4 linked regions of the Homo sapiens genome follow. The protein of the gene in region 3 purifies or fractionates together with the protein of the main gene of each other region. This does not show direct contact. Each region holds a gene or a part of one and is shown on either strand. Other genes may lie near its edges.

What was found.
Region 1: the proteins of CGB2 (region 3) and MTA3 purify together in Homo sapiens (affinity purification with mass spectrometry; 2 studies listed by BioGRID and IntAct, with this or other methods). This does not show direct contact.
Region 2: the proteins of CGB2 (region 3) and CYFIP1 purify together in Homo sapiens (affinity purification with mass spectrometry; 2 studies listed by BioGRID and IntAct, with this or other methods). This does not show direct contact.
Region 4: the proteins of CGB2 (region 3) and NCKAP1 purify together in Homo sapiens (affinity purification with mass spectrometry; 2 studies listed by BioGRID and IntAct, with this or other methods). This does not show direct contact.

The regions. Positions count from the first base shown.
Region 1 is NC_000002.12:42,753,571-42,757,508, reverse strand, and holds the end of MTA3 (metastasis-associated protein MTA3), read right to left. Parts: 3' UTR 563-3,938; downstream 1-562. UniProt on the Homo sapiens protein: Acts as a component of the histone deacetylase NuRD complex which participates in the remodeling of chromatin.
Region 2 is NC_000015.10:22,970,369-22,977,491, forward strand, and holds part of CYFIP1 (cytoplasmic FMR1-interacting protein 1), read right to left. Parts: intron 1-7,123. UniProt on the Homo sapiens protein: Component of the CYFIP1-EIF4E-FMR1 complex which binds to the mRNA cap and mediates translational repression. In the CYFIP1-EIF4E-FMR1 complex this subunit is an adapter between EIF4E and FMR1.
Region 3 is NC_000019.10:49,027,584-49,033,798, reverse strand, and holds CGB2 (choriogonadotropin subunit beta variant 2 isoform 1 precursor), read right to left. Parts: upstream 1,910-6,215; 5' UTR 1,704-1,909; coding exon 1,695-1,703; exon of another isoform or gene 1,529-1,694; intron 1,296-1,528; coding exon 1,128-1,295; intron 893-1,127; coding exon 578-892; 3' UTR 561-577; downstream 1-560.
Region 4 is NC_000002.12:183,028,373-183,035,495, forward strand, and holds part of NCKAP1 (nck-associated protein 1), read right to left. Parts: intron 1-7,123. UniProt on the Homo sapiens protein: Part of the WAVE complex that regulates lamellipodia formation. The WAVE complex regulates actin filament reorganization via its interaction with the Arp2/3 complex. Actin remodeling activity is regulated by RAC1.

The sequences.
Region 1 (3,938 bases), on a different chromosome or scaffold from region 3:
TTCACAAACACAGGCTGGAGGGGTCCCAAGGGAGCCAAGCTTCACTTTCCCCTATAATGACCTTGGCACAGCAGCTGAGACAGAGTCCACACAAACAGCCAGCCAAACAGCAAACCCCATGTTGGGGCACAGCAGCCTTCCTCAGTGCACCACCTGAATACCCCAGCACCCATCCCCACAACCCAGCACTGGCCACAGCAGGGCACAAGTCACACTGCAGGGTAGTTCACGGGAAAAAGGCTGCCTATTACACCTCATACCTCCAGGCCTGGGGGCACAGGGTCAAAGGCCTCCTACTGGGGTGACCTCGCCTCGTGAAACTTCCATGTCCCCAGGATGTGGCTTATGAGACAGCAGAAGAAGATGCAGACCCTGGGGAAAGGCCTCTGAGAGTCTCAGTGCAGCTGGGGCACAGCAGACCAACTGGCCTGGCCTATTACCTCCCCGGGGCCCTCGGAGCTCAAGGTTCTGAAACAAGGACCACCTGAGGCTGGGCCTAGGGGTGCGTGCACAGTCTTACACCTGAGCCATCATCCTAGTAAAGAACAGCATAAAACCAGGCAAAATTTCCAGGAATTTATTGGAAACACAATACAAATTGGTTAGTAGATGGCATCTCCTTACAGACAGACAATCCACACTGTGGTATCATGCTCAGAACGAATTATCCTGCGGAAACACTCATGAGCACAGGTGCGTGCTCTGGGTTAGCTTCCCTGGCAGGGAAAATCAGAGACATAGTGCAGAGGAACAGGAGGGGTGGACAGAAAACTGGGACATGGCCTTCCTGGGGGGAATGGTGAGGAGGGGCTGCTAACTGAGTAAATTCCCCCAAAGGAAAACAGGGACAACAGTAAAGAATAAAGGCTTCCCCCTCCCTCCCCAAAGCCGTTTCCTCTCTAGGCAGAGTAAAACAGAATCTCCAAACACCCACGGGGCAGCTCCTCCACCTCCCCTCGCCAGGGACTTAGGACAGCAGTGGGGCATAAACACCAGGCTCAGACATGACACCGAGTGCACTGAGGCCACGCACAGCCCCACCTGCTTGCCCTCAGCCCCCTGCTCTGCTCTGAGTGGCAGGGGACTGACCCGGTGGGTCGCCTGTCCCAGGCTCCCAGGGCAGCTGCTTCCAACTGGGTTTCACTACTGTGAGGCACCTGCAGGACTCTGGAGGCCAAGAGGAGGGGAGAGGCTGGGGCCCCCTCTCTCTGCCTGGGGAAATGTTTCTGACAAGAATCATGGCTTCTCGAGGCTCCAGCCCCCACCAGACAGGTCCACAGTGTGGCAGGTCCCCCAGTGGCCTTGGCCCCAGGCTCTGGTGACGCGTCCTCCCCTGGTGCCCAGCCAGTCTCAGGATGGGGGCGGCTTGCTGTTGTTGTTCCCCACCTCTGGGTTGCCCCTCACTCCCCTGTTTTGCCTCTCAGCTTTTCTTGTTTTGTGTTAAACAAATCTCTGGATGAAAACCCCCACTTGAAATCCATTTTCCTGGGTGGGCCCTGAGAGATGGAAACTGGGCTGTGCACAAGGGGAATTGTGAAGGGCAGGCTGAAACCTTCCGGCGACACCCTCCAGTCGGCCCTCCTCTCTTGCGCACCTTTAAGAAGTGAAGGGTGGGCAGGCGATGACTGAGCCAGAGGGGGAGATAGCCTGCAGAGCCTGTGTCCTCACCCCAGGGGCATGTCTGCTGGGGGCTGCGCAGACAGTCTCTGCACGTCCACCCATGTGCTCACTGAACCACAGTGACATGCCACTGACACACAGCAGGGACACCATGGCCCCAGAAAGGGAGCGGGTGGCTGGGAAACCCTCTCAGCACCAAATGCTTCCAACGGCAAAGGCACAGACTAGAGGCGCCTCGGCACCCTTCCTCCATTGCCTGGGGGATTCTGTCAGAACGAGGGGGCAGTTTCCAGAGACAAAGGGAGAGCGTGAAGTCTCAGTCAACATCACCCTCCTAGGATGACTGGACTACAGAACCACGAGCTTTACTTACAAGAGGAAGGAAAAGCCTGCTTGGCACACGTGGCTCGAACAAGCTGCGCTTTTCCCAAAGCCAAATGTCAACTGGGTAGATAGGAGGGGCCTCCCTTCTCCTGCTTCAGACCTGGCCTGACTCCTGTCTCCAAATCTCTTGGGCCTGGGTGAGAGGGCCTCTCCCAAAAGGCAGAGAAAATGAAGCTGGCAGCTGAGTCACGGGCAGCTAATTGTTTCCAGAATCTGCAGTCACCACTTAGTAGGGGTTCAGAGAGAAAGTGAAAGGGTGAGGGAATCATTTCCCCTTCTGGGTCCAAGTACGACAATAAATCCAGAGCAGGGTACAGACAGACAGCTTTCCTGTGTCTTTTTCTTTAGGGAAGAAACATCCACGTGATGCGGCACCTCCTCCCAGGTCTTTGCTGAAGGGACCCCTCAGTGGGAACCCTGAGGAGAACCCCTGCCTGCCACCTCCACCCCTCTCACCAAATGCTTCTGACACAGGCCCCACCCTCAGCGCCCCAAGCCAAGACCCAGCACAGCTCCAAGAGTGGGTGGTGGTGGAGACATCCCATGCTCGCCCTTGCAGAAGCCTAAGATGAGAACCAACTCCTCCTCAGAAAAGAAGCTGAGATGTCTGCAAAACCGCCCTCCACCTCACACAGCACGCTCTCTCTGCCAAGCGGAGCTCAGCCTCCGAGGACACAGACATCTACAGCATCATTATCCTTACCAAGTTACCTCGTGCTTCCCAGGGTGTCAATTCAATTGTAGCCACTCTGTCTTGCAACAGCTTGGCTATTTGGGCCTCTCGTATCTGCCATCCAGCTGCCTCCTAGTAACCCCAGAGATGGCTGGGAGATCAGACTCCAGTTGTCTTTCTTGGGACTGTGACCCTGTGCCTGCAAACAGAGGGCAGGGGAGTTGCCAGCCTCACATCTGCTCAGGGAGCTCATCGGGCGCTGAGCTATTCCTATCCTTGCAGCTGCCAGCACAAGTAGCACAGCTACTCAGCACAGCTGAGTGGCCAACTGTGATGCCACCAAGGGCTCGTGCCGAGGGCAGGTGGGAAACACGAAGAGCCCAAGCCAAAGGAGCAGGCAGGTCCCCCGGGGCCTAGGTCACATGTGCTCACAAGATGTTGGGCTGGAGGGGTGGGGGTCATGGGGTTGGCCACACAGACTCATACCCACAAACACAGTTCTCTCACTCCACACCTCTAGGCCAAACAGAGTCTGTCTGCTTAAAATGAAACTAGGTCATTTGTGACCTGCTGTAGGACCCACCTGGCAGCAGTTCTTCATCAGCTGGTTTGGCTGCAAGGGAACAGGGCAGTAAGCAAACGGCTTGTCACAGTGATACACACGCTTGGCACTTTTAACAACTGCTCTTGCTGGAGCTGTCTGTGACCAAGCAGAGCCGGGCAGAACACCAGTTTCTCTCCAACCACAAAACACAGATGATGAGTTTACAGGCTTATCTTTTGTCAGAACCTCGGTAATTCTGTTCCTTGGAGGAGTAGGAGGGAGGGTCACATATAGGAATGCAGAGGGTAAACAGCAAATTCCCCCATTTCAAAAAAACAAGGATGAAGCCTATCGAGAAAAAGCTGAGTGACGGTAACAGCAAGGACAGGGAAATACCTTGAACCTCATAAACACTGGCGCATTTCTTAAGAAAAATCCATTCAGAAAGATGCCATGGCCCTCCTGTACATATTTAGTAACTATACAGCATAAGACCGAGCTGAGCGGACACATGCAGGGTGGCAGCGGCTCTGAGCTTGCAGCAGCCCCACTGCCAAGTGGCCGCTGTTGCTGGGTGGGGCGCAGGGCGCTGCAGAAGGGAGGAGGTGGAGGGGTTCCCTCAGCCCCTCAATTCTCAGCAGGTCTCGCTCCGTAACAGCGAGGTCTCTGACAAGAAAGCGAGGTGCTGCTGATCCACACGTGGAGACACAGGATTTG
Region 2 (7,123 bases), on a different chromosome or scaffold from region 3:
CAAAGCCTTCTAAAGACTCAATGCAATCCCTTTGAAAATTCCAACAGCACTTTGTTTTTGCAAAAATAACCCATTTTAAAATTCATAGGAATCTCCAAGGACCCAGAATAGCCAAAGCAATCTTGAAAAAGATGAACAAAGTTGGAGACTTCACTCCTTTTTATTTCAAAACTTACCATAAAGCTACAGTAATTGAAACAGTGTGGCACTGGCATAAAGAAAGGCATACTGGCCAATTAAACAGAACAAAGAACCCAGACATAAACCTTCACATATGTGGCCAAACAATTTTCAACAATGATGTCAAGATCATTCAATGGAAAAAGAATAGTCTTTTCAACAAATTGTGTTAGGAAAACTGAATATCCACACATACATGAATTATGTTGGACCATTACCTTATATAATATACAGAAAAGTTAATTTGGCCTGGCGTGGTGGCTCACTCCTGTAATCCCAGCACTTTGGGAGGCCGAGTCGGGCAGATCACAAGGTCAAGAGATCGAGACCATCCTGGCTAACACGGTGAAATCCCGTCTCTACTAAAAATACAAAAAATTAGCTGGGTGTGGTGGCGGGGGCCTGTAATCCCAGCTCCTAGAGAGGCTGAGGCAGGAGAATCGCTTGAACCCGGGAGGCGGAGCTTGCAGTGAGCCGAGATTGCGCCACCGCACTCCAGCCTGGGCGACAGAGCAAGGATCTGTCTCGAAAAAAAACCAAACACACACACAAAAAAGAAAAGTTAATTCAAAACAGATCAACGCCTAAACATCGGATCTAAAACTATAAAACTCTTAGAAGAAAACAGGAGAAATGCTTCATGACATCAGATTTGGCAATGATTTCTTGGATATGACACCAAAAACACTGGCAACAACAGAATTAATAGACCAGGTGCTGTTGCTCACATCTGTAATCCCAACACTTTGTGAGGATGAGGTGGGAGGATCACTTGAGCTCAAGAGTTCAAGACTAGCCTGGGCAACACAGCTAGACCTTGTCTCTACTAAAAAATAAAATAAGGCTGGGCGTGATGGCTCATGCCTGTAATCCCAGCACTTTGGGAGGCCAAGGCAGGCAGATCGCTTGAGGTCAGGAGTTCCAGACCAGCCTGACCACCATGCAGAAACCCTATCTCTGCTAAAAATACAAAATTAGCCAGGCGTGGTAGTGGGCGCCTGTAATCCCAGCTTGAGTAGCTTGAGGCTGAGGCAGGAGAACTGCTTGAACACGGGAGGCAGAGGTTGCGGTGAGCCAAGATTGCGCCATTGCACTCTAGCCTGAGCAACAAGACCAAAACTCTGTCTCAAAAAAAAAAAGAAAAAAGAAAAAGAAAAGAAATAAAATAAAAAGTAGCTGCACGTGGTGGCTCACACCTGTAGTCCCAGACACTCAGGAGGCTGAAGTGGGAGGATCGCTTGAGCCCAGGATATCAAAGCTGCAGTGAGCCATGACTGCACCACTGAACTCCAGCCTGGGTAACAGCCTAGGTAACTCATCTCAAAAAATAAATAAACAATAGATAGTACCCAAAGCAATCTACAAATTCAATGCAATCTACAGGTTCAATGCAATCTACAGATTCAAAGCAATCTACAGATTCAATGCAATCTACAGATTCAATGCAGTCTCTATCAAAATACCTACCATATTCTTCATGCAAATAGAAAAAGAAATCCTAAAATTTGTGTGGAACCACAAAAGACTTGGAATAGCAAAAGCTATCCTGAGCAAAAGAACAAGGCTGGAGGCATCACACTACCTGACTTCAGAATATACTACAGAGGCTGGGCATGGTGGCTCCCGCCTGTAATCCCAGCACTTTGGGAGGCTGAGGTGGGCGGATCACCTGAGGGCAGGAGTTCGAGACCAGCCTGGCCAACATGGTGAAACACCGTCTCTGCTAAAAACAAAAAAATTAGCTGGGTGTGGTGGCGCACGCCTGTAATCCCCAGCTACTCAGGAGGCTGAGGCAGGAGAATCGCTTGAACCCGGGAGGCGGAGGTTGCAGTGATCCAAGATTGCGCCATTGCACTCCAGCCTGGGTGACAGAGTGAGACTCCGTCTCAAAAACAAAACAAAACAAAAAAAACTACAGAGATATAGTAACCCAAACAGCACACTATTGTCATAAACACAGACACATAAACCAATGGAACAGAATAGAGCCTGGAAATAAATGCATGCATTTGCAGCCAACTGATTTTTAACAAAGGTGCCAAGAACACACAATGAGAAAAGGATAGGTTCTTCAATAAACGGTGTTGAGAAAACTAGATACACACATACAGAAAAATAATATCAGACCTTGGCTTCTCAACATAGACAAAAATCAACCCGAAATGAATTAAAGACTTAAATGTGGCCAGGTGCGGTGGCTTAGCCTATAATCCCTGCGAAGCCCAGGCAGGGGGATCACCTGAGCTCAGGAGTTTGAGACCAGTCTGAGCAACATGGTGAAACCTTATTTCTACAAAAAAACACAAAAATTAGGCGGTGGCTCACACCTGTAATCCCAACACTTTGGGAGGCTGAGGCAGGAGGATCACTTGAGGTAAGGAGTTTGAGACTAGCCTGGCCAACATGGTGAAACCCTGCCTCCACTAAAAATACAAAAATTAGCCGGGCATGGTGGTGCACACCTGTAATCCCAGCTACTCAGGAGGCTGAGACAGGAGAATCGTTTGAACCTGGGAGACAGAGGTTGCAGTGAGCCAAGATCGCGCCACTGCTCTCCAACCTGGGCGACAGAGTGAGACTCCGTCTCAAAAAAACAAAACAACAACCAACCAAAATTTAGCCAGGCATGATGGTGCACACCTGTAGTGCCAGGTACTGGAGAGGCTGAGGTGGGAGAATTGCTTAAGCCCAAAAGGGCAAGGCTGCAGTAAGCCATGATTGCCCCACTGCATTCCAGCCTGGGTGACAGAACGAGACCTTGTCAAAAAAAAAAAAAAAAAAAAAAAAGGGAGAAGAAACTCCCTAACCATTAGCAGTTATTCTCACTTTTTCTACCCGTTCTTCACTGATCCTCTCTCCCCTGCTTTCTGGCCCCAGGCAATCACCTGTCTACTCTCTGTCTCTGTATATTTGCCTATTCTGGACTTTCCCCCTTGTATCTAACTGTAAATGTGTATCCTTTGACCAACATCTTCCTCTCTCCCCTTCCGCCAGCCACCCCAGCCTCTGGTAACCACCATTCTGCTCTGTTCTTCTGTGGCATCAGCGTTTTCAGATTCCACATGTGAGTGAGATCGTGCAGTACTTGTCTTTCTGTGCCTGGCTTATTTTGAGGAAATAAAGCCTCAAAAGCAAAGGCCACAAAAGAAAAAATAGACAAATGGGATTACATCAAACTAAAAATGTTCTGCACAGCAAAGGAATCAATCAACAAAGTGACAATCTACAGAATGCAGGAAAATATCTGCAAACCATATAACTAATAAGGGATTAATAATGAAAATATACAAAGAATTCAAACAACTCAATTGTAAAAGATCTGAATGGATATTTCTCAAAAGAAGGTGTACAAGTGGCCAACAGGTGTATGAAAAAATGCTCAACATCGCTAATCATCAGGGAATCCAAATCAAAACCACAATGAGCTATCACCTCACACCTGTCAGACTGGCTCTTGTCAAAAAGGCAAAAGATAACAAGTGTTGTCCAGGGTGTGGAGAAAGGGAAACCCTTGTACACTGTTGGTGGAGATGTAAATCAGTATAGCCATTGTAGAAAACAGTGCCGGGGGTTCCTCAAAATATTAAAAATAGAACTACCATATGACCCAGCAACACCACTGTTGGGTATATATCTAAAAGAAATGAAATCCGTATGTCCAAGAGATCGCTGTACCCCATGTTTATTGCAGCACCTTTCACAACAGCCAAGACATGGAATCAACCTAACTGTCCATCAACAGATGAGCAAGGCCGGGCCTGGTGGCTCACATCTGTAATCCTAGCACTTTCAGGAGGAAAGGAGGATTGCTCCAGCCCAGAAGTTCAAGACCAGCCTGGGCAACATAGTGATACCCCATCTCCATTTAAAAAATAATTAAAATTAAAAAAACAAAAACAGGCCGGACACGATGGCTCATGCCTATAATCCCAGTACTGGGAGGCCGAGGCAGATGAATCACTTGAGGCCAGGAGTTCGAGACCAGCCTGGCCAACACGGTGAAACCCCTTCCTCTACTAAAAATGCAAAAAAATTAGTCAGGCTTGGTGGCACCTCCTGTAATCCCAGGTACTTGGGAAGCTGAGGCATGAGAATCACTGGAACCCAGGAGGCGGAGGTTGCAGTAAGCTGAGATCACACCACTGCACTCCAGCCTGGGTGACAGAGTGAGACCCTGTCTCAAAACAAACAAACAAAAACTGGATTATGGTGATGGTTGTTGCACAGCTCCAGAAATCTTCTAAAAATTATTGTATAGTTGTCCCTGAAACAACACGTGTTTGAACCATGCGGGTCCACTTATTTGCAGACTTTTTCCAGTAAAAGTTACACGGTGTATGCCTGCCTCTCTAGCCCCTCCTTCCACCTCCCTCCACTTCTGCCTTTGCCACCCCCAAGACAGCAAAACCAACCCATCCACTTCCTCCTCCTTGGCCTGCTCACTGTGAGCTTTTTGAGGATGGAGACCTTTCTGATGATCCACTTCCACGTGATGAGTAGTCAGTTTATTTCCTCTTCCTCATGATTTTCTTAACAACATTTTCTTTTCTCTAGCTTACTTTATTATGAGAACACAGTATGTAATACATATAACTTACAAAATCTCTGTTAATCAACTGTTTATGTTATCAGTAAGGTTTCTGGTCAATAGCAGGCTATTCGTAGTTTTAACTTTTGGGAAGTCACGTAGTTTTAACTTTTGAGAAGTCAAAAGTTATACTTGTCCAGCCTGGCCAACATGGTGAAATCCCATCTCTACTAAAAATATAAAATTAGCCAGGCATGGTGGCGGGTGCCTGTAATCTCAGCTACTCAGGAGGCCGAGGCAGGAGAATCGCTTGAACCCGGGAGGCAGAGCTTGCAGTGAGCCGAGACAGAGCGAGACTCCGTCTCAAAAAAAAAAAAAAAAAAAAAAAAGGTTAAAGGCCAGGCTCGGTGGCTAACGCCTGTAATCCCAGCACTCTGGGAGGCAGAGGCAGAGGCGGGCAGATCACCTGAGGTCAGGAGGTCGAGATCAGCCTGACCAACACAGTGAAACCCCCTCTCTACTAAAAATACAAAATTAGTGGGAGTGGTGGCGCATGCCTGTAATCCAAGCTACTTGGGAGGCTGAGGCAGGAGAATGGCTTAAACCCAGGAGGCAGAGGTTGCAGTGTGCCAAGATCGTGCCATTGCACTCTATCCTGGGCAATAAGAGCGAAACTCCATCTCAAAAAAAGTTACACTCGGATTTTCAACTGCACAGGGGGTTGGAATCCCTAACCCCCTCGTTCACAGGCCAGCCAAACGTATACTTAAAAGTAGGTGAATTTTATAAAGTAGGTATATTATACCTCAATAAACAAAATTTTTGTTTAAAATTTTTGTTTTTAAAGCATGCTAATATTTTTAAATTGGAATTGGGTTAAATTTATAGATCAATATGAAGAGAACTGATGTCTTTACTATGTTGAGTGTTCCAACCACTGACCATGGTATGTTCCCCCATTTACTTAAATGATCTTTGATTTCTCTCATCTTCAGCATACAGATCCTGTAAGTCTTATTCAATGTATACCTAAGTATTTGATTCCTTTGAAGCAAACGAAATGTTGTGTTTTTAAATTTAATTTTCTTTTTTTTTTTTTGAGACGGAGTCTCGCTCTGTTGCCCAGGCTGGACTGCAGTGGCGCGATCTCGGCTCACCACAACCTCCGCCTCCCGGGTTCAGGCGATTCTCCTGCTTCAGCCTCCTGAGTAGCTGGGACTACAGGCGCACGCCACCATGCCCAACTAATTTTTGTATTTTTAGTAGAGACAGGGTTTCACTATGTTGGCCAGGCTGGTCTCGAACTCCTGCCCTTGTGATCCGCCCGCCTCGGCCTCCCAAAGTGCTGGGATTACAGGCGTGAGCAACCACGCCCAGCCAAATTTAACTTTCTAATTGTACATTGCTAGTACAGTAGTCCCCACTTACCTGTAGTTTCATTATCTGCAATTTCTGTTTCCCCAGTTATAGCTGCCTACAGTCAACTGCCCTCCAAAAATAGGTGAGTGCATACAAAAAGATATTTTGAAAGAGAGAACACATTTATATAACTTTTATTCAGTATATAATTATTCTATATTATGAACAGTTATTGTTGGTAATCTCTTACTGCGCCTAATTTGTAAATTAAGCTTTATCATAGGCATAGATGTATAGGGAAAAAAACCACAGTACACGGAGGGTTCTGTCTTATCTCAGGTTTCAGGCTTCCATTGGAACGTATCGTCCATGGATAACAAGGACTGTTGTAAACAGAAATAAGGTCAGCTTGTATAGTGTTGACTTTGCATGTATCTCCCCATGGATAAGGGGCACTGCTGTATGCAGAAATAAGGTCGCCAGGCCGGGCCCGGTGGCTCACGCCTATAATCCTAGCACTTTGGGAGGCCGAGGCAGGCGGATCACCTGAGGTTGGGAGTTCCAGACCAGCCTGACCAACACGGAGAAACCCCATCTCTACTAAAAACACAAAATTAGCCAGACATGGTGGCACATGCCTGTAATCCCAGCTACTCGGGAGGCTGAGGCAGGAGAATCGCTTGAACCCGGGAGGCAGAGGTTGCGGTGGGCCGAGATCGCACCATTGCACTCTAGCCTGGGCAACAAGAATGAAACTCTGTCTCAAAAAAAAAAAAGAAAAATAAGGTCGCCTTCTGTGTGTTGACTTTGTATCTTGTGACCTTGCTAACCTCATTAATTAGTTCTAGTAGCTTTTTCATAGATTCCCTGGATTTTCTATGTAGATAATCATGTTGTCAGCAAATAGGGACAATTTTCCCTTTCCAATTTGTATGCCTTTTCTTTCTTTGTCTGATACTATTGCACTGGCTAAAATAAGGTTTTTAAATTATGTCAGTGTAATTAATCCATGCTTTATCAATGGCCTCTAAGGGTTGGCTAAATTTTAATAGGAAA
Region 3 (6,215 bases):
TGCCAACCTCAGAGGGTGGAAGAGGGAGCTCGGCTTAGAATGCTGAGGCCCTGCCCCCTGGGCCACACCAATCGTGTGGCCTTCCTTCTCCCCACGGAAGGCCAGACCATGGACACCTCCTGAGCTGGATGTCATCCCCCATCTCCACCCTCTTTTCTTTTTCTTTCTTTCTTTCTTTTTTTTTTTTTTTTGAGATGGAGTCTCGCTCTGTCGTGCAGGCTGGAGTGCAGTGGCGCGATCTCTGCTCACTGCAACCTCCCGCTCCCAGGTTCACTGCATTCTCCTGCAAGCGCCCGCCACCAAGCCCGGATAACTTTTCGTATTTTTAGTAGAGACGGGGTTTCACCGTGTTAGCCAGGATGGTCTCGATCTCCTGACCTCATGATCCGCCTGCCTCGGCCTCCCAAAGTGGTGGGATTACAGGCGTGAGCCACCACGCCCAGCCGTCCACCCTGTTTTCTACCAGAGTTCTGTACTGTGACTCTGTATAAAATGGTTTGGAAGCTGGACCCACCCTGTGTGTGTGGTTGCCCTGAGCCCACAGAAAGACACCGCCAGAGTGCGGATTGAGAAGCCTTTATTGTGGGAGGATCGGGGTGTCTGAGGGCCCCGGGAGTCGGGATGGGCTTGGAAGGCTGGGGGGAGGGGCCTTTGAGGAAGAGGAGGCCTGGAAGCGGGGGTCATCACAGGTCAAGGGGTGGTCCTTGGGACCCCCGCAGTCAGTGGTGCTGCGGCGGCAGAGTGCACATTGACAGCTGAGAGCCACGGCGTAGGAGACCACGGGGTTCACGCCGCGCGGGCAGCCAGGGAGCCGGATGGACTCGAAGCGCACATCGCGGTAGTTGCACACCACCTGAGGCAGGGCCGGCAGGACCCCCTGCAGCACGCGGGTCTGGAAGCCGTGTGAGTGGGAGAATGAGCATGTGCCTGGGGCCAGCGCCTCAGCTGAGCTCCCCAGCTGCCCCCACAGGTCTCAGACTCAGGGGTCCAGGAAGCCCTCTGTTCCTGCCCTCCCACACCCCATTCCGCAGCCCCTGACCAGAGAGGCAGACCACCCTTCCTCCCCCGCTGCCTCTGTGGGTCTGGCCCTGAGGTGGCAGCACCTGCCCCGGCCCCGGGCAGCTCACCATGGTGGGGCAGTAGCCGGCACAGATGGTGGTGTTGACGGTGATGCACACGGGGCAGCCCTCCTTCTCCACAGCCAGGGTGGCATTGATGGGGCGGCACCGTGGCCGAAGCGGCTCCTTGGATGCCCATGTCCCGCCCATGCTCAGCAGCAGCAACAGCAGCAGCCCCTGGGACAAGGACACTGCTTCACCCGGGTCTGAGACCGCAGCCCCGAGTCCTGGCCTTCCCATCCCGCGTGGTACACCACCCACAAAGACCCAGAGACCCTTCGTGGCATCTCCTATTCAGGACCCACCACCCGGACACCTGCCTTTCAGAGCCCACCCCACAGCCCAGAGGATCTCAGATACCCCAACATTTTAGATCCCCACCCTCAGGAACTGCCCCACCTGAAGCTTACTGGGGGTCACGCTCCTCCAGAAAGAGGCCTCCTTCCACAGCTCACACTGGTCTGCCCCTTCTCATGCCAGTGATGGCCTGGAAGCAGGTGGAAGGTGCCCAGGGGCCCTGCAGTCTTTCCTGGAACATCTCCATCTTTGGTGCCTGGAAATGTCGATCTACCCTACCTTTGACATGTCTCTCTCTTAGCGGGATATCTTCCGCAAGCACTGGGGATGTGGACATGGAAAGTAAATTGAGTCTCCGTGGGGGAGTGAGACAGGGAGTGAGGGGTGTTGGACGCGGCACGGGAACCCGGCCGGAGTCAGCGGACCCAATTGGCTGCTCTCTCTCAGATACAGTTCCCCTTCCTCCCTCCAGGGGGCGCCACGGAACGCAGGGCCCTCACTGGCCCTGGGGACTGGGTGACGTCAGGGGTGAGCCTCTCCTGATTGGCTCCATCACCCTGCGTAAGGTCAAAAGGAAGAAAGGAGATCCCCGACACCCCGAGCTATTGTGGCTCCGACCGGTTGCGCGTGCCCTCGGGCCCTCAGGGAGGGGAGGGTTCGAGGGTACGAGTTCGAGGCCAACCGGGTCCACATTGGTTGAGAAAAAAATTTTTTTATCGTTCCCTATATAATAACAAAACATAAAGGGAGGACGCCTTGATAGGAAGAAATGACATCTTCCTAAGTGTTTTTAAATTACTTCAATGTATCTTTTTTTTTTTTGGGAGACCGAGGCTTGCTCGGTCCTCGGGGGACCTCCCTGCCTGTCAGCCATGGCGGTCGTCACCTGTGGTAAACAGAATGGCGGGAGCAAGTGGGATGTCCCACTACTCGGGCTGAGGCAGGAGAATCACAGGAACCTAGGAGGTGGAACCTCCTCGCCCAGGAGGGGCGCGGCTTCGGACTTAGTTTCTGCCCAATGAGAGAGGGCCTCCCCGTGACTGTGCTGCCAGGTTAGCCACTTGACCCTGGTGCCGCCAACGAGGGATTCAGCCCGAGCCCCACCTCTCCCTTAGGGACCTCTGCCCACTCTACCCTCAAGCCAGGATGCCCGGAGCGGTCCCCGGAAATGCGTGTGCTTCAGGTGATTTAACTGATTATTGAATAGGCCCGCAGGAGGTGTGTCCTGCCCCCGAGGCCTCAGCCTCAGAGGACATTATCTGGACTTAGTCCCTTCCCCGCGATGCCATCAAGCTGGACAATTTTAAGGTCTGTTTCTTTCCCAGTGTAGGGTATAGGTTGGCACAGGGAAGAGGGCTAGAAACCTGACTTGAGCTCCCCGCCCAGGGCTGAACTCTCCAGCATCCTGATCACTTCTCATTGAACCTTGCTTATACTCCCCGTGTGATCGGTAGCTCTTTATCTCAAAACAAAATATTCTAAGCCGACCCCTGCCCACTCTCACCAAGTAAGATTTCTCATTTGAACCCCAGCTCCCAGATACTTAAAGGCCTTCTGTAGACCATGTCCTCAAGGTCCCCTGGCCATCTGCTTGCATGTTCCAGTTTCCCTCCTCCCCCATGCACATCGTGAAATGTGCCCTCCCACTCCCCAGGATGAGCAAGGTGGTGTCCTCTGTGACTGAGCAGTCAGCAACTTAACACCAAAGGTCACCAATGATCAAATCCATGAGAGTTGATCCGAGGAGTTATGTATTAGGGCTACGAAAGAGTAAACACTCAGTAAATAGTGGCTATTATTATTATCATCATCATCATGATTACCCTCAAGTTCCCCTGGGAGAGCTCCTATTCAACCTTCAAAACCCCACGTTGTTGCACCCATCCTACAGAGATTGAGCTCAAATTCAGAGAGTTGTGATTTTGCGATGATTTGATGAGTTCCCCAACTGGGGTCCGTCCGTAGAGCAGCTGGGCCAACCCTGAGGTCTCTCAGCATCCAGCTCTGTTCTTTTTCTGCCTGACCAGTTCCTGGGTATAAGTCTCAGGCCCGGCCAGTCCGGCTGAGGAGTGTGCAGACACAGGCTGTGCCAGTTTGAATCCATCGCCAGTCCACACGGCCCTGGGCATCAGCGGTCAATGCCCGCACATAGGACTGCTTGGCCTTGCACTCAGACACCCAGTGCCCCCCGGTCCACACCCCAGCGGCAGCCCCTCCACCTACCCCTGGGCCACCTTCTTCAGAGTTATCGGCCTTGAAGCAGGTGACAAAGAAGTGTTGGTGGAGGGAACTGCTGCCAGCTGCAGGCACCTCACCCAACACCTCCACCTCGAGCACAACCAAGTCCACAGCGGTCCGGGGGTCTGTCACCCAGACACTGACTGCATCGCACACGGCCAGCTCACCCTGATGACTCGCCGGTGAAGTATCGCTCACCCCTCGCTGGCTGCGGTTGGCCCGGGTGCCTGCTGACTCCCAAAAGGCCCCAGTCTCCAGCAGGAAGACCAGAGGGGGCCCGGCAGCGGCACCCCTAGACAGGACCACTTGGGGGAAAATAAGGTCCCACTCTGGAGGAGGAAAAGGGGACAATGTCAAGGGTGGGGGTTAGGACTCCATTGACACACTGGGGAGGAAGCAAATGAGGGGGATGCAGAGGGAGCCTGGGGGAGCGGGAGCATCTCTCAGAGGACATGGAAACAGGGAAAAGGAGGCTGGGATTAGAGAAGAGGATAAACACTTCAGTGAGGTCAGAAGTTGGGAACCCCAGGGGAGGCCTGCCTGCCAGGATTATGGGGAAGCCCTTGCTCTAGAAGTTTGGGGGACTCCATGTATGGGACTTGCATCACACCCAACTTGTAGATTAATAATAAATATTCAACAACTACAGGTCAGGCACTATGGCTCACACCTGTGGTCCCAGCACTTTGGGAGGCTGAGGCGGGTGTTTGACTTGAGGTCAGGAGTTCAAAAGCAGCCTGGCCAACACTGTGAAACAACATCTCTACTGTTAATACCAAAATTAGCTGGGCGTGGTGCTGCGCTCCTGTAATCCCACCACTTTGGGAGGCCCAGGCGGGCGGATCATGTGGTCAGGGGATCGAGACCTTCCTGGCTAACACGGTGAAACCCCGTCTCTACTAAAAATACAAAAACTTATCTGGGCTTGGTCGCGGGCCCCTGTAGTCCAAGCTACTTGGAAGGCTGAGGCAGGAGAATGGAGTGAACCTAGGAGGGGGAGCTTGCAGTGAGCAGAGATCGCGCCACTGCACTCCAGCCTCCACGACAGAGCGAGACTCCATCTCAAAAAAAAAAAAAAAAAGAAAGAAAGAAAGAAAAAGAAAACAGGGTGGAGATGCAGGATGACCTCCAGCTCAGGAGGTGTCCATGGTCTGGCCTTCTGTGGGGAGAAGGAAGGCCACGTGATCGGTGTGGCCCAGGTGGCAGGGCCTCAGCCTTCTAAGCCGAGCTCCCTCTTCCTCCCTCTGATGTTGGCACTGGCAGTGCAGGTGGGGCGGAGAGGGGCGCGGCTTGGGGACCTGAATGGGATGAATGGGCCGAGGGGGATGTCATCTCTTCCATCCTCCTTCATCCACTGCCTCTCCCTTCCCCTCCTCCCCCCTCCCCTCCGTCCATCTGCCTCCCATCCCAGCTAGGACCCATCACCTGGGTAGAAAAGGGGCCTCTGGAAAGGGGGCGGGGCCTTGACTCTTGGGTACCCTGCACTTGAAGAGGAACTCTGGGAAGGGGTTGTTCAGGGATTTGGCCCCTTCCCCACCTGGCTGTATAACCTTCCTGTGCTTTTCTTCTGCTAGCCGGTTGCCCCTCCCTCTCCTGAGATGTCAGGAAAGAGGGGGCCACCTGCGTCCTCCACAGGGGCCCCGAAGCCTGGGGTTCCCAGCCCCAGAGCTCGGAGGTGGAGGAGGTGCTACAGCTCTGGTGACCACTGGTTGTTTCCCAGTCTTCTCCACGCCAACCTTTCCCAGAACCACAGGCTTCCAGAATGTTGTAGGGAAACTGCAAAATCCGCGCCTCCACCAGCCTCTCCCAGCGCCAGGTCAATTTCACACACAGGGAAACTGAAGCCTGCCTCAGAGGGGCAGCGTTTTACCTCCTTAGTGGCAGTTTTGAGGTGAATCGGGGTCTCCCTAGGATTCCAGGTTGTGCACTTTCTCTAAATTGTGGAATGTGGCCAGGCGTGGTGGCTTGAGTCTGTAGTCCCAGCTACTCAGGAGCCACAGCAGGAGGATGGCTTGAGCCCAGGAGTTCAAGTGCAGTGGGGAAACATAGGGAGACCTCGTCTTAAAGCAATTTGTTTGGGGCCAGGCGTGGTTTCTCAGGCCTATAATCCCAGCACTCTGGGAGGCCAGGGCAGGAGTATCACTGGAGGTTGGGAGTTTGAGACCAGTCTGGCCAATGTTGTGAAACTGCATCTCTACTAAAAATACAAAAATTAGCAGGGCACGGTGGCAGGCGCTTGTAATTCCAGTTACTCAGAAGGCTGAGGCAGGAGAGTCACTTGAACCCAGGAGGCAGGCGCTACAGTGAGCCAGGATTGTGCCACTGTACTCCAGCCTGGCCAGACAGAGTGAGGCTCTGTCTCAAAAAAAAAAAAAAAAAAATTGGGCCGGGTGCAGTGGCTCATGCCTGTAATCCCAGCACTTTGGGAGGCCGAGGCAGGCAGATCACAAGGTCAGGAGATCAAGACCATCCTGGCTAACACGGGGAAACCCCGTCTCTACTAAAAAATACAACAAATTAGCCAGGCATAGTGGTGGGTGCCTGTAGTCCCAGCTACTCGGG
Region 4 (7,123 bases), on a different chromosome or scaffold from region 3:
TAAATTTAAATATTTATATACTTAAATTTCCAGTTCTCAGAATTGGAACTTTATTCTCCATGAATATTCTAATTATAATATTTTAAAAGTCAGGATTATTTTATGTGACAGATAAAATTACAGTGATGTTAAAGGATACACTTAAACATAGTAATTAAAACCCTTGTCTCTTGGGTCAAGTGCATAATAGCCTATATGACCTTAGGCAAGTTGCCTAACCTCTCAGCCTCAGTTACCTAACCCATAAATTGAGGATATTATTACTACCTACTGCATAGGGTACACTGTTAAAATATTTAAAAGATAAGATACACATAAACTGTTTATTTAGGTGCCTGGCACATATGTAGTTAATAAATAAGTTCCAAATATTTTTTTAAATAAAACTTCTTTATATACATGGATACACATAGTGAGTTCTCAATTATGGAAACAAGATTTTCCATAAAAACAATTCTAGGCTGGGCTCAGTGGCTCACGCCTGTAATCCCAGCACTTTGGGAGGCCGAGGTGGGCAGATCGCGAGGTCAGGAGTTCAAGACCAGCCTAGCCAACACGGTGAAACCCCGTTTCTACTAAAAATACAAAAAAAAAAAAATAGCCAGGTATGGTCTGGCGCCTGTAATCCCAGCTACTCGGGAGGCTGAGGCAGGAGAATCGCTTGAACCCGGAAGGCGCAGGTTGCAGTGAGCCAAGATCGCGCCACTGCACTCCAGCCTGGGCAACAAGAGTGAAACTCTGTCTCAAAAGAAACAAAAAAAAAACTATAGGTCAGTAGTCAATTCAATATCTCTAAGTTCCTTTTAAAACACAAATCTGATGTTATCAGTAAAAATGAAGGACAAGGATGTTTCAGAAAACTACACAATATATTATCCGGGCCACAAAAGAAACATCTTTGATTAGAAACATCAAGCCTAGACCCTATGCCATTTTAAAGTATGACTTTAAAACACATCTTTCTGCCACTCTACCACAAACCCCCATACTGAGGCCTTTCCTCAAGCTATTACAGCATAGGATTACATACCACAGCTTAACTTTACATGGTTAATGTTACTATTTTTCCAAGAACTTACCATGATGCCAAAAAAAAAAAATACAGATTTTTAAAATTCCTCTATCTATTCACAAGAGATTAAGCAACAATCAAGACACCAAAAAAAAAAGACTGCTCAGTAGCTCACACCTGCAATCCCAGCACTTGCGGAGGCCAAGGCAGGAGAATTGCTGGAGCCCACAAGTTTGAGACCACCTTGGGCAAGAGGGAGACCCTGTCTCTACAAAATGTTTAAAAATTAGCCAAACGTGGTGGTAAATATCTGTGGTCCCAGCTACCTGGGAGGCTAAGATGGAAGGACTGCTTGAGCCAGGGAGGTTGAGTCTACAGTGAGCCCTGTTCACAACCACTGCAAACTCCAGCCTAGGCAAGAGTGAGACCCTGACTCGAAAAAAAAAAAAAAAAAAAGAGAGAGAAGGAAAAAAAACAACAAAATAATCAAGATACAAAAGATGTTGGAAGTAAAAAGAACATTTACTGTGCAATTATTGTGTGCAAAACACCTATGCTTTAGAAATTATCTAAATTATCACTCAACAGAAAGGAAAGGAGCTTCTGAAAAATTAAGTAACTTGATCAAGATTTCACAACTACTGACAGGACCTACAGAGAAATTCATACCTGATTCCAAAACACTATCTAAAAATATATGTCCCCTCCCAAAAATAATGTTTAAAAACATGCTCCACTTATTCAAAACCTCCGCTGCTTAAAACCTCAGGAAGCAGTTGCTATCACGGTAAAAATCTGATCAGTTCAATCCATTTTATTTTTTTGAGACAGCATCTTGCTATATTGCCCAGGCTGGACTTGAACTCCTGGTCTCAAGAGATCCTTCTGCCTCAGCCTCCTAAGTACCTGGGATTACAAGCACGCACTACTACTGTGCCTAGCTTCAGTTTTATTTTTTAATTTCTATTCTAACTCAGGAATAAAACACATTCCTTTGCTAAAATATGGAAGAACAATTATTTTCTAGTACAATAATTGGAAAAATGCCAAAATAGGGAAGAACAAAATGATTTTCTAGTACAATGAATTAACTGAAAAAATATGAACAAGATCTCAGGAGTCAGAGTGAGAATGCTATTCGTGAGGGCACAGAAACCAGCCCCATCTGAATAATGTCAAGGATGAGGAGAAAAATACAAAATGTGGCCAATTTAGACTCGAAAGAGGAATTTGACTTAATAACCAAGAAACACCACACGTTTTGCAAAATTGAAGGAATAAAGGGACAAAGATTCTTCCCTGAGTTTTCAACAAATTGAAATTAATACCTAGAGGAAGAATAGACGTTACCTGAAATTATGGAATGTAAAAGTAATATATACCTATGATTATTTTATGTTCCAATTTTTTAAATAATGAAAATATTACAGTATGAAAATTGTCCATAAGTACTGGAAAACTTTATATCAAGAGCAAAATAAGACTCAAATTCATCAGTAGTTAGCTTTCCGATTATTTTTTTCCTCCTGTGTTATGATGTATATTTTGGCCAACCGATCTGCTTTAAGTTAGCACTTTCCCTCTTAGGTAGGTAAAAAGAAAAGAGAGCAATCTACTGCTAGTAACTTGGATTAAGAGGCTTGATAACAAAGTATACTGAAATTATTGGAAATGCTTTCAAATTAATGTAATTTTATCAATAACTACCTCTTAATTGGAGCCAATAATTGAGATCTAAAAATATAGAAATCACAGTTATTGTCCTTTAGACACAAGTTCTGAGAAAGTCATGAACTTGAAAAACTTCAACCCATTATACACTTCAAAATTAGTGATTCAAAAAAAAGAAAAAAATTTAGTGATTCAAATGAGTTATTAATTACCATTCCATTTACAAGAAGATATATATGTCACTGTTGCCTTTAAACAGTTTTCAGCTTCCAATATACAGGATCATCTCAGTTTATGAAGCAAAGGTGTTTTTGCAGTTTTTTAAAGTATATATATTGTCATACCTTTGCGGTTAAAAAGAAATTGTTATTTAAAGGACTACTGTGGAACACATACTTCTGAAATACAAATAATTATTCTGTCTTAGCAGTAAGTAGATGTCAAACTGTATCAGGCAGTAAAATAGAATAGTGAGGAATGTTTCCTAAAAGGTAGTCTTGAGCTTAATTTAATCTGGGGGTGGGGGGGAATGAACATTTATTAAGTGTCCACTATGTTCCAAGCCCCAGAAATAGAACTAGTAACAACAGCCACCATTTCCTCAGCTCTTACGCTTGCTACAAGGCACTGTACCAATACTTCCTATGGATTCACTCATTTAATTCTCCTCTTAACCTATGAGGTTAATAAAAGCGTATTCCAAAAACGTGAGATAACTGGAATATCTATTTAAGATTACAAGAGTTAGAATCAATAAGACTAGCAAGGCTTAGAAAGCCAAAAAATACAGCTTGAAGCATAACAGAAGCTGAGAGCAAATAAGTACCATGGAGCTGGTTTTGCTAGTAGACAGCCAATGTGCAGCCTTCCAGAAATTTAGTTATAACCCAGACAACTAAATTAAATCACCACAGTTAATAATTAGCAGGAAAAGAAATTACAGGTATTTAAGAATTTACATTTCAGTTATTTCAGTAGTTAACATTGGAACAATTTCAGGGATTTTTTTCTGTTCAAGTTAAGTTTGGGTCAGGATCCAGATGTATGGAATTTGGAAAAACCTTCCAAGAGGATTCTATTATGTATCCCTGGCTAGGAACCACTGATCTCCTCACTTTGTAAGTAACCTACAGCCCAGAAATGTTAAATAACTTGTTCAAACTAAAAAAAAAGTATCAGAGCATTATCTAGAATCTAGCTCTCTCAACTCACAGAATATTCTGCAAGTACGGAAAATGTTTAGAAAATAAGTGAAGTTTAGAGGTTATATGCCTGCAAGAAGAGCATTACTATTTTATACTCTAACACAGTCATGCATTGCTTAATGTCATCAGATGATTTCATCATTGTGTGAACATCAGAGCGTACTTACATAAACCTAGATGGTATAGCCTACTATACACCCAGGGTACATGGGATATAGCCTACTGCTTTCATGCTACAAACCCGTACAATGAGAATACTGCAGGCAATTGCAACATAATGGTATGTATTTTTGTATCTAAATGTATCTAAACATAAAAAAAAACAGTAAGAATACAGTGTTATCTTATGGGACTACTGTGTATAGGCAGTCCATCATTTCAGTGTTATGTGAAATATCATTATGCAGAATGACTGTATTTTGTTATCTTTATACAGATGCTCCTCAACTTAACAATAGGGTTACATTCCAATAAACCTATCTTTAATTGAAAATATCATAAATCAGCCAGGTGCGGTAGCTTACACCTGTAATCCCAGTACTTTGGCAGGCTGAAGCGAGTGGATTGCTCGACCCCAGGAGACAGAGACCAGCCTGGGCAACACGGTGAAACCCCAACTCTATCAAAAAAAATACAAAAATTAGCCTGGCATGGTGGCATGTGCCTATAGTCCCAGCTACTCAGAAGGCTGAGGTGGGAGGATCGCCTGAGCCAGGAGGCAGAGGCTGCAGTGAGCTGAGATCGTGCCATTGTACTCCAGCTTGTATGACAGAGCTAGACCCTGTCTCCAAAAAAAGAGAAGAAATGCATTTAACACACCTAACCTACCTAACATCATAGTTTAGCCTAGCCTACCTTAAACACTTACATTAGACTACAGTTGAGTAAATTATCTGGTAATACAGTACACTGCAGAGTATCAGATCACAAGAAAGTATCATACCACTTCCTACTGCATGCCATAGCTTTTGTGCCAACAAGAAGTCAACAAATTGTTAAGTCAAACCATCACAAGTTGGGGACCCTCTGTATATCCTACTGAATAAAAACTCTGCAATCTGAAATAGTAACTAGTTAGTTTCTGTCACTGGCTGCCTGAAGTTTCTATTCATACTTCAAAACCAAGTACAAATGTGACTCTCCTCTTTACCATCTCTCCCAGATTATAATCCTTAATTCCCTTCTCAAGACTCCGACAATCCTACTTACACACTGCATTTTAGTTAAATATCTATACATCTCTCTCCCCACTAAGACACTAATTTCTTGGCACTAGAGACTTCATCTTAATTTACCTCTATTTCCCTCATGCCAGGGAACACATTCAATAAACGAAGAGTAAATGAATAAATTAAAAGGGAAAACCTCAATATTTGAGAGTAACTGAAAGAATAGCTCATATGATGGCTTATAAAACAGTTTTAAAGATGCAATTTTATTACTATCTAAAATAGTCAACTATGCAATAACAAAGCATTTTCCAGTATGGGTTCTTCTACTTAAAACAAGAGAATCATTTCAAACTGGCACATATACAACCCTACTTACAAACTAACAATTCAGTAGCTTATAAAGTTATAAAGATGGGCAGACAGTGAATTTTTGAAGTCACTCATTTATGTTATGTTTGAGTTTTTGACAATAAACATATATTCCTCTGGTAATCATTAAAAAATTTTAAAGTTACTTAACAATTCCATAAAGGAAACAAAAGATGGATTATTTATCATTGCTACTTAAAAATTAAAAATAATTATTTTCCTAAGCATCTCTGGAACACGCTTCTGCATCTGATTGACCAAAAGAGAAAATAACACCCTAAGTGGAAACAAATACAATACTGAAAGGGAAGACTAAAACCAGTTCCCCTCCCTTTACCCTGCACTGCTCCCTTCACAAACATCTTTTCTTCCCCCACTAAATAAGCAGATACTGGCTAAAGACTTTCAATTTTACAATGCTAGTCCTGTTAAACTTTTCCTTAGAAAATAAATTTATCCAAAATAATGAGAAAAGGATAGGGAAAAAAAGAAAAATATTCCTCTAATGTTTTTAAAGAAGTAAAACTGCATTTAAACCACCACAATACTCCACTTTAAAAAGTTTGTAATAGTTGTATGGGTTTTTTTTTTTTTCTCATTCTCTGACCTTTACAGTACAGGCAGAAATTTAACAGGAGGAAAAGACGCAAGTATTAACTAAGATCTTTTTAATACAGAGATTAATCTCATGTTGGTAATGGTGGAGGAAAAGAAAGGAGAAGGAAAAAAAGAAGAGAGTAAACCACACACACAAAAATTTAACTGAGCAAAATGTTTTCTTTGGGTATTTGGCAGTTTTGTTGAACAGTTATACAATTTCAGAAAAACAATGTTGCCCAAAAGAGATGCTCAGATTCCTAAATACTATTTTCACATATTACCATCCTCTACCTTCAGAAGCAATTCTGTGAAGTATGTAGGGCAGGCATTATGCTCCCTACATTACAGAAAACTAAACTGAGTTCAGTTATTGTTTAAAATGAAACATAATTTCTACTCTACTACTTCACCATAAAATCATAAAGATAGAGCTGGAATAGACTTTAGTGTTCCTTTTACAGTTAATTTTCCCCATTTTACAGATGAGGAAAAGTGAAGCTCAAGAAAGTCAAATTACTAACCAATGTTAGAGAACTCTCAGTGACAGAATGAAGATTGGAATGCAAGTCTCTTAACTTCTGGCCCAGTGCTCTTAATCCCACCACCACACAAGTTGCCATGCTGGAACCTTTAAAAATGTTACAAATCTCTACATGAGTGAGTCACATTATTAGGTCTGCAAAAGGGAAACCATATATTTAAAAACAAAAAAAAAGGAATTAAGCAACAAATAAATTTAAATGTAAAGCTACCAACAACCTTCAAGTCTTTTCCCTAAAATCCGCTTTTATGTGTTCCTACATCCTCCGTCAAACTACAAGTTCCCTAAAATTCCCATAAATTGTAAATATTAAGATCTCAAAATTTTTGACTGATGAAATTAAAAAAAAAAAACATTCTTCAGTAATCATGCTCCAACTTCCCTAATAAGCGCCAAAGCATATTACTGACAATAATAAGTTATTTTACTTAACTATTTTTCATTGTATATGTTCACTAAAATATCATTTCCACTGTATACTTCCAATTGAAACAGAGTAATTAGATCTGGTAGACAATCTAATGCACATGCATTAATGAAAATGTGATAATTG